Regions from separate parts of the Homo sapiens genome. Here region 2 is linked to region 1. A link means that fine-mapping ties the variant in region 1 to the expression of a gene that starts in the linked region. Tissue or cell type: caudate. Region 1 holds a variant in brackets; the other region holds the start of a gene. All regions are shown on one strand. Distances are between the middles of the regions.

The links. PIP is the estimated chance that this variant, and not a neighbour inherited with it, causes the effect. A credible set is the group of variants that fine-mapping cannot tell apart.
Region 2: IL17RE starts here. The variant in region 1 is the best candidate, but not a certain one, in a credible set for the expression of IL17RE in caudate (GTEx, PIP 0.86).

Annotation. Positions count from the first base shown.
Region 1 is chr3:9,595,060-9,600,063 of GRCh38, forward strand. It overlaps LOC105376949 (a long non-coding RNA gene), which reads right to left. Exons shown (of 3, transcript XR_940586.1): 2 at 4,474-4,567; 3 at 3,362-3,604. Among named protein-coding and RNA genes, the nearest start is that of LHFPL4, 44 kb to the left of the region's middle. The variant C/T (reference allele first, on the strand shown) is at 2,556.
Region 2 is chr3:9,900,556-9,905,559 of GRCh38, forward strand. It overlaps IL17RE (interleukin 17 receptor E), which reads left to right and starts at 2,293. Exons shown (of 16, transcript NM_153480.2): 1 at 2,293-2,509; 2 at 2,842-2,857; 3 at 3,477-3,596. The coding sequence starts at 2,378. RefSeq lists an enhancer at 2,497-3,166.

The DNA of each region.
Region 1 (5,004 bases):
AGTCCTCCAACTTTGTTTGTTTGTTTGTTTTTGTTGTTTGTTTGTTTTTAGCTCACTTCAGTCTCTAACTCTTGGGCTCAAGCAATTCTCTCACCTCAGCCTCTCTAGTAGCTAGGGCCACAGGTGTGCACTATCACACCCAGCTAATTTTCTTTTGTTTTCCTCACTGCAATCTCCACCTCCCAGGTTCAAGCGATTCTCCTGCCTCAGCCTCCTGAGTAGCTGGGACTACAGGTGCATACCACCACATCTGGCTAATTTTTTGTATTTTTAGTAGAGACAGAGTTTCTCTGTGTTGGCCAGGATGGTCTCGATCTCCTGACATTGTGATCTGCCCGCCTTGGCCTCCCAAAGTGCTGGGATTACAGGCGTGAGCCACCGCACCCAGCCTCCAGCTAATTTGAAAAATGTTTTTCTGGAGATGGGGTGTCTCTATGTTACCCAGGCTGGTCTTGAACTCCTGGCCACAAGTGATGCATCTTGGCTCCCAAAGTGCTCAGATTACAGGCATGAGCCACCGCACCTAGACTTCTTCTTCTTTTTCAAAATTGTTTTGACCATTCTAGTTCCTTTTCTTTTCCACGTAATTCTTAGAATCAGCTTGTAGACTACCAAAATATTGCTAGAACTTTAAAACCAATTGCACTGAATGTACAGATCAATTTAAGACACCTTAATAATATTGAGTCTTCTTATCCATGAACATGATATATCTTGTCGTTTGTTTTAGTCTCCTTTGATTTTTCTCATCAGGGTTTTGTAGTTTTCTGTGTAAATCTGCTGCACACATTTTGTTAGATTTATACCTATTTCACATCTTTTGGTGTTATCATAAAGGATACTTTTTTTTTTAAACAAAGTTTCACTCTGTCACCCAGGCTGGAGTGCAATGGCACTGAGACAGCCAGATGGGAAGGGGTCCCCAGAGAAACTTCAACCAGCCTGTGCACTGGGAGGAGTGCACATTGGGATGGAGACACAGAAGTTCCTGCTGTTTGCAGTGGGGAGGAGCCTGGCCCCTCCTTTACCTGGGTGGAACCTGCAATTCAATCCATGAGGCAGGAAGCACATACTAACAGTACTTTCACTCTGCTGAGAGTCCCTGTTTCCCTCTGTTTCCCATTTGGCCCAATAAATCCCATTTTTCTCATTCTTCAAATTGTCTGCAAGCCTAGATTCTCATGGCCATGTGACAAGGACTCCATCTTTAGCTGAACTAAGGAAAAGCCCAGCAACAGCACCATCACAGCTCACTGCAGCCTCAACCTCCTGGGGCTCAAGTGGTCCTCCCAGCTAAGCCTCCAAGTAGCTAGGACTACAGGCATGCACCACCACACCCAGATATTTTTTGTATTTTTTTCTGTAGAGACTGAGTTTTCCCATGTTGCCCAGGCTGGTCTTGAACTCCTAGGGTCAAGCAATCCACCCACCTCAGCCTCCCAAAGTGCCAGGATTACAGGCATGAGCCACTGCAACTGGCAATGGTACTTTACATTTCAATGGTACTTCACATTACAATGGTTTTTTTGTTTGTTTGTTTTTTGTTTTTGTTTTTGTTTTTGAGACAGAGTCTCGCTCTGTTGCCCAGGCTGGAGTGCAGTGGCACACTCCACCTCCCGGGTTCATGCCATTCTCCTGCCTCAGCCTCCCGAATAGCTGGGACTACAGGCGCCCGCCACCATGTCCGGCTAATTTTTTGTATTTTTAGTAGAGATGGGGTTCACCGTGTTAGCCAGGATGGTCTCGATCTCCCGACCTCGTGATCCACCCACCTCGGCCTCCCAAAATGCTGGGATTGGGATTACAGGCGTGAGCCACTGCGCCTGGCCACAATGATTTTTACATTTCTTCGTCTTTTTTTTTTTTTTTTTTTGAGACAGAGTCTTGCTCTGTTGCCCAGGCTGGAGTGCAGTGGCACGATCTCGGCTCACTGCGATCTCTGCTCACTGTGACTTCCACCTCCCAGGTTCAAGTGATTCTCCTGCCTCAGCCTCCCGAGTAGCTGGAACTACAGGCTCACGCCACTATACCCAGCTAATTTTTTTGTATGTTTAGTAGAGACAAGGTTTCACCATGTTGGCCAGGCTGGTCTCGAACTCCCAACCTCATGATCCACCCACCTCGGCCTCCCAAAGTGCTAGGACTACAGGCATGAGCCACCATACCCAGACGGTTTTTAACATTTCAAGTTCCAACTTTCTTTTTCTTTTCTTTTTTTTTTTTTTTTTTTTTTTGAGACAGTCTCACTCTGTTGCCCAGGCTGGAGTGCAGTGGCGTGACCTCAGCTCACTGCAAACTCTGCTTCCCAGGTTCACACCATTCTCCTGCCTCAGCCTCCCTAGTAGCTGGGACTACAGGCGCCCACCACCACGCCCAGCTAATTTTTTTGTATTTTTAGTAGAGACAGGGTTTCACCATGTTAGCCAAGATGGTCTCCATCTCCTGACCTCATGATCTGCCTGTCTTGGCCTCCCAAAGTGCTGGGATTGCAGGCGTGAGCCACCACTCCTTGCCCCAATTTTCACTGTACAGAATTAAAATTGGTTTTTTATTGA[C/T]CACATATCCTGTGACCTTGCTAAGTTGCTTATTACTTATAGTAGGACATTTTTGTAGATTCTTTGAGATTTTCTATATAGACGATTATGTAATCTGTTAGTATAGTTTTATTTCTTCCTTTTCAATCTATATGCTTTTTTATAATCTTAATGTAATGTTCCATTACAATGTTGAATAGGAGTGACAAGGACAGATATCCTTACCTTGTTCTCTTTCTCAGTGGAAAAGCACTGAGTCTCTTACCATTAAATATGATATTAGATGTAGGTATTTTACTGATATCAATTATCAGGTTGAGGATATTCTCTTCTGTTACTAGTATACTGACAGTTTTTATCATAAATGATGTTAGACTTCCTTTTCTTTTCTTTTTCTTTTTTAGACGGAGTCTCGCTCCGTCACCAGGCTGGAGTGCAGTGGCGCAATCTCGGCTCACTGCAACCTCCACCTCCCGGGTTCAAGTGATTCTCCTGCCTCAGCCTCCTGAGTAGCTGGGATTACAGGTGCTCGCCACCATACCTGGCTATTTTTTTTTTGTATTTTTAGTAGAGACGGGGTTTCACCAAGTTGGCCAGTATGGTCTCGATCTCTTGACCTCGTGATCCACCCACCTCAGCCTCCCGAAGTGCTGGGATTACAGGTGTGAGCCACTGCGCCTGACCTAGACTTTCTTTTCAAATGCCTTTCTTGTGGGTGCATTTTTTGAGATCATCATATGGTTTTGTAACAGCCCAAGAGGTTCTTCTTGCCCACTGCCCAGAAAAGCCAATGCACTGAGAACAGCAGGTTTTGCAGCAAAGAACATGTTTAATTGCAAGGCCAGCCAAGCGAGAAGATGAGACAATTCTCAAATCTGCCTCCCAGAGAATGCGGAGGCTAGGGTTTTAAGGATAGTTTGGCAGGCAGGGAGCTAGGGAATGGGAAATACTGATTGGTTTGGTCAGGGATGAAACCACAGGGTTATCAAAACTGTCTCTGTGCCTCTGTCAGTTCCTGGGTGGGGGTCACAAGTCTGGGTGGCATCAGTTGTTCCACCAGAATGCAATGCCTGAAAAATATCACAAATACCAATGTTAGGTTTTACAATAGTGATGTTACCTATAGGGGCAACTAGAGAAATTATAAATCTCGTGACCACTAGCTGTATGAATTCTGAGCAGTAAGCAAATTAGAAAACAATGGCTAGTTATTATTAAACTCTGCATAGGTCGTCGCAGAATTCAGGACCCACCTATAATTCTAATCTTATGGCCTTTCATAAGTTTTACAAAGGCAATGTCAGTACCCAAACAAGGAGAGGGTAATTTGGGAAGGGACTGCTATCATCCTTGCTTTAAGGTTAAATTATTAACTAAATTCCTCCCAGGAGTTCCTGCCCAGGAATTGGCAAGGGCAGTTAGCTTATGAGTTTACAAGGAAGTTGGAGCCTGCTATATTAAATTTCTCTGTGTCTTTTTGGGAAAGGGCTATTACCAATTTTGTTTCAGAGTCAAATCATGAACTGAATTCCTTCCCAAAGTTAGTTTGGCATCCACCCAAGAATGTACAAGGACAGCTTGAAGGTCAGAAGCAAGATGGAGTCAGTTAGATCTGATCTCTTTCACTGCCATAATTTCCTCAGTTATAATTTTTGCAAAGGCGGTTTTGTAACCGCCCAAGGGGTTGACCTGACCTTGCCCGCTGCCTAGACAGAGCAGATTCGTCAAGACAGGGCAATTGCAATAGAGAAAGACTAATTCACTCAGAGCCGGCTGTGTGGGAGACCAGAGTTTTATTATTACTCAAATCAGCCTCTCTGAGCATTTGAGCATTCAGGGAGCAGAATTTTTAAGGATAACTTGGTGGAAGAGGGGAAGCCAATCAGGAGTGCTGATTGGTCAGAGATGAAATCATAGGGAGTAGAAGCCGTCTTCTTACGCAGTCAGTTACTGGGTTGGGGAGGAGGGGCACGAGATCAGATGAGCCAGTTCATTGATCTGGGTGGGGCCAGCTGATCCATCATGTGCAGGCTCTGCAAAATCAAGCACTGATCTTAGGAGCAGTTCAGGGAGGGTCAGAATCTTATAACCTCCAGCTGCATGACCCTTAAACCATAATTTCCAATCTTGTGGCTACTGTTAGTCCTACAAAGGCAATATAGTCTCCAGGCGAGAAGGAGGTCTGCTTTGGGAAAAGGCTGTTACCATCTTTGTTTAAACTACAAACTATAAACTTAAGTTTCTCCTGGGCAGGCGCGGTGGCTCACGCCTGTAATCTCAGCACTTTGGGAGGCCGAGGCGGGCGGATCACGAGGTCAGGAGATCCAGACCATGGTGAAATCCCGTCTCTACTAGAAACACAAAAAATTAGCCGGGCTTGGTGGCGGGCGCCTGTAGTCCCAGCTACTCTAGTCTCCTGCCTCGGGAGGCTGAGGCAGGAGAATGGCGTAAACCCGGGAGGCGGAGCTTG
Region 2 (5,004 bases), 310 kb after region 1:
TTGGGTTCCAAGAGCAGAGGAAGATGAGGCTGTGTGAGGGAAGACCATAGGATGATAGAGAATTGGTACCGGGCACAGTGGCTCATGCCCATAATCCTAGCACTTTGGAAGGTTGAAGCAGGTGGATCACTTGAGGCCAAGAGTTCAAGACCAGCCTGGCCAATGTGGCAAAACCCTGTCTCTACTAAAAATACAAAAATTAGCCAGGCATAGTGGTGCACAGCTGTAATCCCAGCTACTCAGGAGGCTAAGGCACAAGAATCACTTGAACCTAGGAGGCGGAGGTTGCAGTGAGCCAAGAACACACCACTGCACTCCAGCCTGGGCAACAGAGCAAGACTATCTCAAAAAAAAAAAAAAAAAAAAAAAGCCAGGTGCTGTGGTTCATGCCTGTAATCCCAGCACTTTGGGAGGCCAAGCTGGGCTCAGATCACCTTAGGTCAGGAGTCCAGGACCAGCCTGGCCAACATGGTGAAACCCGTCTCTACTAAAAATACAAAAATTAGTCTGGTGTGGTGGCGTGCACCTGTAATCCCAGCTACTCGGGAGGCTGAGGCGGGAGAATCGTTTGAACCTGGGAGGTGGAGATTGCAGTGACCTGAGATTGCACCATTTGCACTCCAGCTTGGGTGACACAGTGAGACTCTGTCTCAAAAAAAAAAAAAAAAAAGAGAGAGTTGAGTTGCGAGGGCCTAGCAAAAGGGGAGCTCCCTGAACTATAGACTTTGACCTTGTCCAAATCATTATCCCTCTGCTTCCTTATCTCTCTATGAAATGAAAACAATAATTAACACTTACCTGTCTCACAGGTAGGGTTAGGAGGATTAAATATAAAAGTGTTTTGTGAAGTGTGAAACAGATAAACTACATAGATGAAATGTATCATGACATTTATTCAATTACACAGCACATACTTCATAATATCTACTGCTAGGCTTGGAGAAACATAAAGAATAAGAGTTTTTATCTTTTCATGAACTCAAAAAGCTAGAGGGTACTTTTAGGATAATGGGTAGGATGCAGCCTTCAGACAATGAACCTAAAGACAGGAATAGAATTGGCCAAAAGCAGGCTGTGGTTAGGCCACTGAAAGGTGGTCTAGATTGAATTGCAGGGGGACAATAACAATCTCAAGATGCCTTGGCTGGGCGCCGTGGCTCACGCTTGTAATCCCAGCACTTTGGGAGGCCAAGGTAGGTGGATCACATAGTCAGGAGTTCGAGACCAGCCTGGCCAATATGGTGAAACCCTGTCTCTACTAAAATACAAAAATTAGCCAGGCATGGGGCAGGTGCCTGTACTCCCAGCTACTCAGGAGGCTGAGGCAAGAGAATCGGTTGAACCCAGCAGGTGGAGGTTGCAGTGAGCAGAGATTGTGCCACGGCACTCCAGCCTGGGTAATAGAGCAAGACTCAGTCTCAAAAAAAAAAAAAAAAAAAAAAAAAAAGATGCCTTGACCTGGTAGGTGTGCCCCAAACTTTCTTTCCAGTGTGTGTGTTACCAAGGTGAGGGCTGAAGCTGCTCAAATGCTCCATGAAGGGGAGGAAGCTGTGGGATGATGGGGAGGGTTCCCACAAAGATGGAGCCTCGTCAGCCTTTCTCCAGCACCGGAAACCACAGGAAACCAGGTCAGTGTGTGGGGCCCGCTCCCTCTGCTCCAGGGCTCAGCTGTGAGCTCTGGGGCTTCCTGAGCAGGGCGTACTGACTAGTGGGTCCTTGAAGCTAGAGGCCCCTTTGGTATGGAGCCCTTTGCCTAGAAGAGCTGGACCTGGCTCATGGGTAGAGAGAACTCGGCTATAGTCCTGAGAGTTAACCAGTTGGGAAGCCAGGGTACATATGGGCTTCATGTGCATCCTAGAGTGCTTTTTTTCTTCCCCACTCTAAATGGTGCCTCAGTCACCTCTGTATCTCCAGCACCCAGTGCTGAGTAGTGCTTAAGAGCTCGGCTAATTCTCTAAGTGAGGGGGTGAAGCGCATGTCTATGGGAGACACAAGTTCCAGAGTGTGCTGATGGGTGGATCAGATCTGCAGTGTGTTTCAGGAGTAGGAGGGGCTAAGAAATGGGTGCGTCCCCCAACCTGATGCTAGCCCCTTTCCTGTTACTTCTCACCCACAGCAGGAGCCCCTTGTCTTTCAGGTGGGGGGCAGTAGGGTTTTTGGGGGCACAAGCTTTCCTCAGTCCCTCCACTTGGAGGGGAAGGAATGTGGCCTGGCTGGCTGGTTGGGATCAAGGAGGAGCTTTCGGGCAGGGCGGGGCCAGGGCAGGCTGGGGCGAGGGCTCCTGCTGGTACTGTGTTCGCTGCTGCACAGCAAGGCCCTGCCACCCACCTTCAGGCCATGCAGCCATGTTCCGGGAGCCCTAATTGCACAGAAGCCCATGGGGAGCTCCAGACTGGCAGCCCTGCTCCTGCCTCTCCTCCTCATAGTCATCGACCTCTCTGACTCTGCTGGGATTGGCTTTCGCCACCTGCCCCACTGGAACACCCGCTGTCCTCTGGCCTCCCACACGGTAAGGTGCTGCTGCCAGGTAGGGACACCTGCCTGGCACAGCCATAAAGCTCCCCACTCCCCTGCCTGCCCTGTGCTACCTCCGCAGTCCCTGTGCTCTGGTGGCAGCTTTGATGTGTCCTCTACCTAGTCTCAAAGGGGTAGCCAAGGTCCTTTGTGCTGAGGGCCTGGACAGGGTGGAGCTGGGAAGATAAGAGCCAGAAGGTATGGGCTATTAGCTATGGGGCTCAGAATTTGCTGATTTGAAGCAAAGACCCCAGGAATGTGCCTTATGGGAGTCTCTCCTAATAATAGCTCTTTCCTTTCTTTTCCCTACTGGGCCCTGTGCCTCAGGATGACAGTTTCACTGGTGAGTCGCATTTCCTGCCCCATTGCTCCTCCCCACGCCCACTATTTTTGCAGATGCCTAGCAAGCCCTCCATTCTAATTTTCAGTTCCCAACCCGGGAAGTAGCACAATATCAAGGAAAAATTTGGAATCATGACAAGCCTGGGTTCACATTGCAGTTCTGCCAGACTCCCGTGTGGCCTCAGACTGTGCACCTAACCCCTCCAACTGACCCTCAGTTTCTGAGGGGTAGTAGCATAGTAGAAATGATTGTACACTAAAGGCAGTGTTGCTTCTGATCTGTAGAGAGGATTAGATGAGAAACATGAGTAAATCTCCAGGTTCTCCATATATGTTGGCTCCTCCCCTTAACTGATCCCTCACTTCTATCAGTAATACAACAATAATCCTTCCTATTTTATGGTATGTTCTACTTCACAAGACATTTTCCCATACACTACAATTTTGATTTTTATAACAGACCCGCTTTATGAATGAGGAATCTGATCCTTAGACAGGTCCTGTAACCCCCAAAGTCATACTTCCAGGATGTGACAGAGCTTGGCCTCAAATCCAGCTTGTTGGAGGTAGGAGGGACCTTCTTAGACCCTATCATTTGCTTTCCCTTCCATCTTTCCCAGGAAGTTCTGCCTATATCCCTTGCCGCACCTGGTGGGCCCTCTTCTCCACAAAGCCTTGGTGTGTGCGAGTCTGGCACTGTTCCCGCTGTTTGTGCCAGCATCTGCTGTCAGGTGGCTCAGGTATGAGAAACAGCCCCTTGGGCCATTCTCAGTGAAGAGAACATTTTGAGGGACCACCTAGGCTGAGCAAGTGGGACTTACTAGAACAGATATTTGTCTTGTTTTAACCTCAACTGGGACTTGGATTATCCTAAAATAGCACGCTATGACTGATATTCACAAATACAATTGTACAATTTTATGAAGGTTTTTTTTCAGCTGAGATTCTTGGAATTAAAAGCTATGGATTTATTGTTATTACCATCTATTTGTAGAGCAGGATCTTCTTTCTTACTCTATATTTTAATTGCTCAGCTCAGTGCCTGGTACATACTAAATGCCCTTACATTGCTTAAGAATTGGCAGTTTCTAGGCCAGGCGCGGTGGCTCACGCCTGTAATCCCAACACTTTGGGAGGCTGAAGCAGCCTGATCACCTGAGGTCAGGAATTCGAGACCAGTCTGGACAACATTGTGAAACCCCTGTCTCCACTAAAAATACAAAAAATTAGCAGGGCCTGGTGGCAGGCACCTGTAATCCCAGCTGCTCAGGAGGCTGAGGCAGGAAAATCACTTGAACCCAGGAGGTGGAGGTTGCAGTGAGCCGACATCATGCCATTGCACTCCAGCCTGGGCGACAAGAGCAAAACTCCATCTCCAAAAAAAGAATTGGCAGTTTCTGGGCCAGGTATGATGGTTCACACCTGTAATCCCAGCACTCTGGGAGGCCAAGGTGGGTGGATCGCTTGAGTCCTGGAGTTTGAGACCAGCCTGGCCAACATGGCCAAACCCCATCTCTACAAAAAAATACAAAAATTAGCTGGATGTGGTAGTGCACACCTGAAGTCCCAGCTACTTGGGAAGCTGAGGTGGGAGGATCACCTGAATTCAGGAGGTGGAGGTTGCAGTGAGTTAAGATAGCGCCACTGCACTCCAGCCTGGATGACAGTGTGAGACCCTGTCTCAAAAAAAAAAAAAAAAAAAAAAAAAGAATAGGCAGTGTTTAATTTTTCTAATTGTTTGTTGTTAGAAATAATGCTACAGGGCTGGGCACAGTGGCTTATGCCGGTAATCCCAGTACTTTGGGAGGCTGAGGCGGGCAGATCACCTGAGGTCAGGAGTTTGAGACCAGCCTGGCCAACATGGTGAAACCCCGTCTCTACTAAAAATACAAAAATTAGCCAGGTGTGATGGTGCATGCCTGTAATCCCAGCTACTCAGGAGGCTGAGGTGAGAGGATTGCTTAAGCCCAAGAGTTCAAGACTGCAGTGAGCAGTGATTGTGCCACTGCACTCCAGCCTCCATGACAGAGCAAAATCCTGTCAAGAAAGGAAGGAAGGAAGGAAGGAACGAAGGAAGGAAGGAACAAAGGAAGGAATGAAGGAAAGAAAGAAAAGAGAGAGAGGCAGGGACTGGCGTGGTGGCTCACG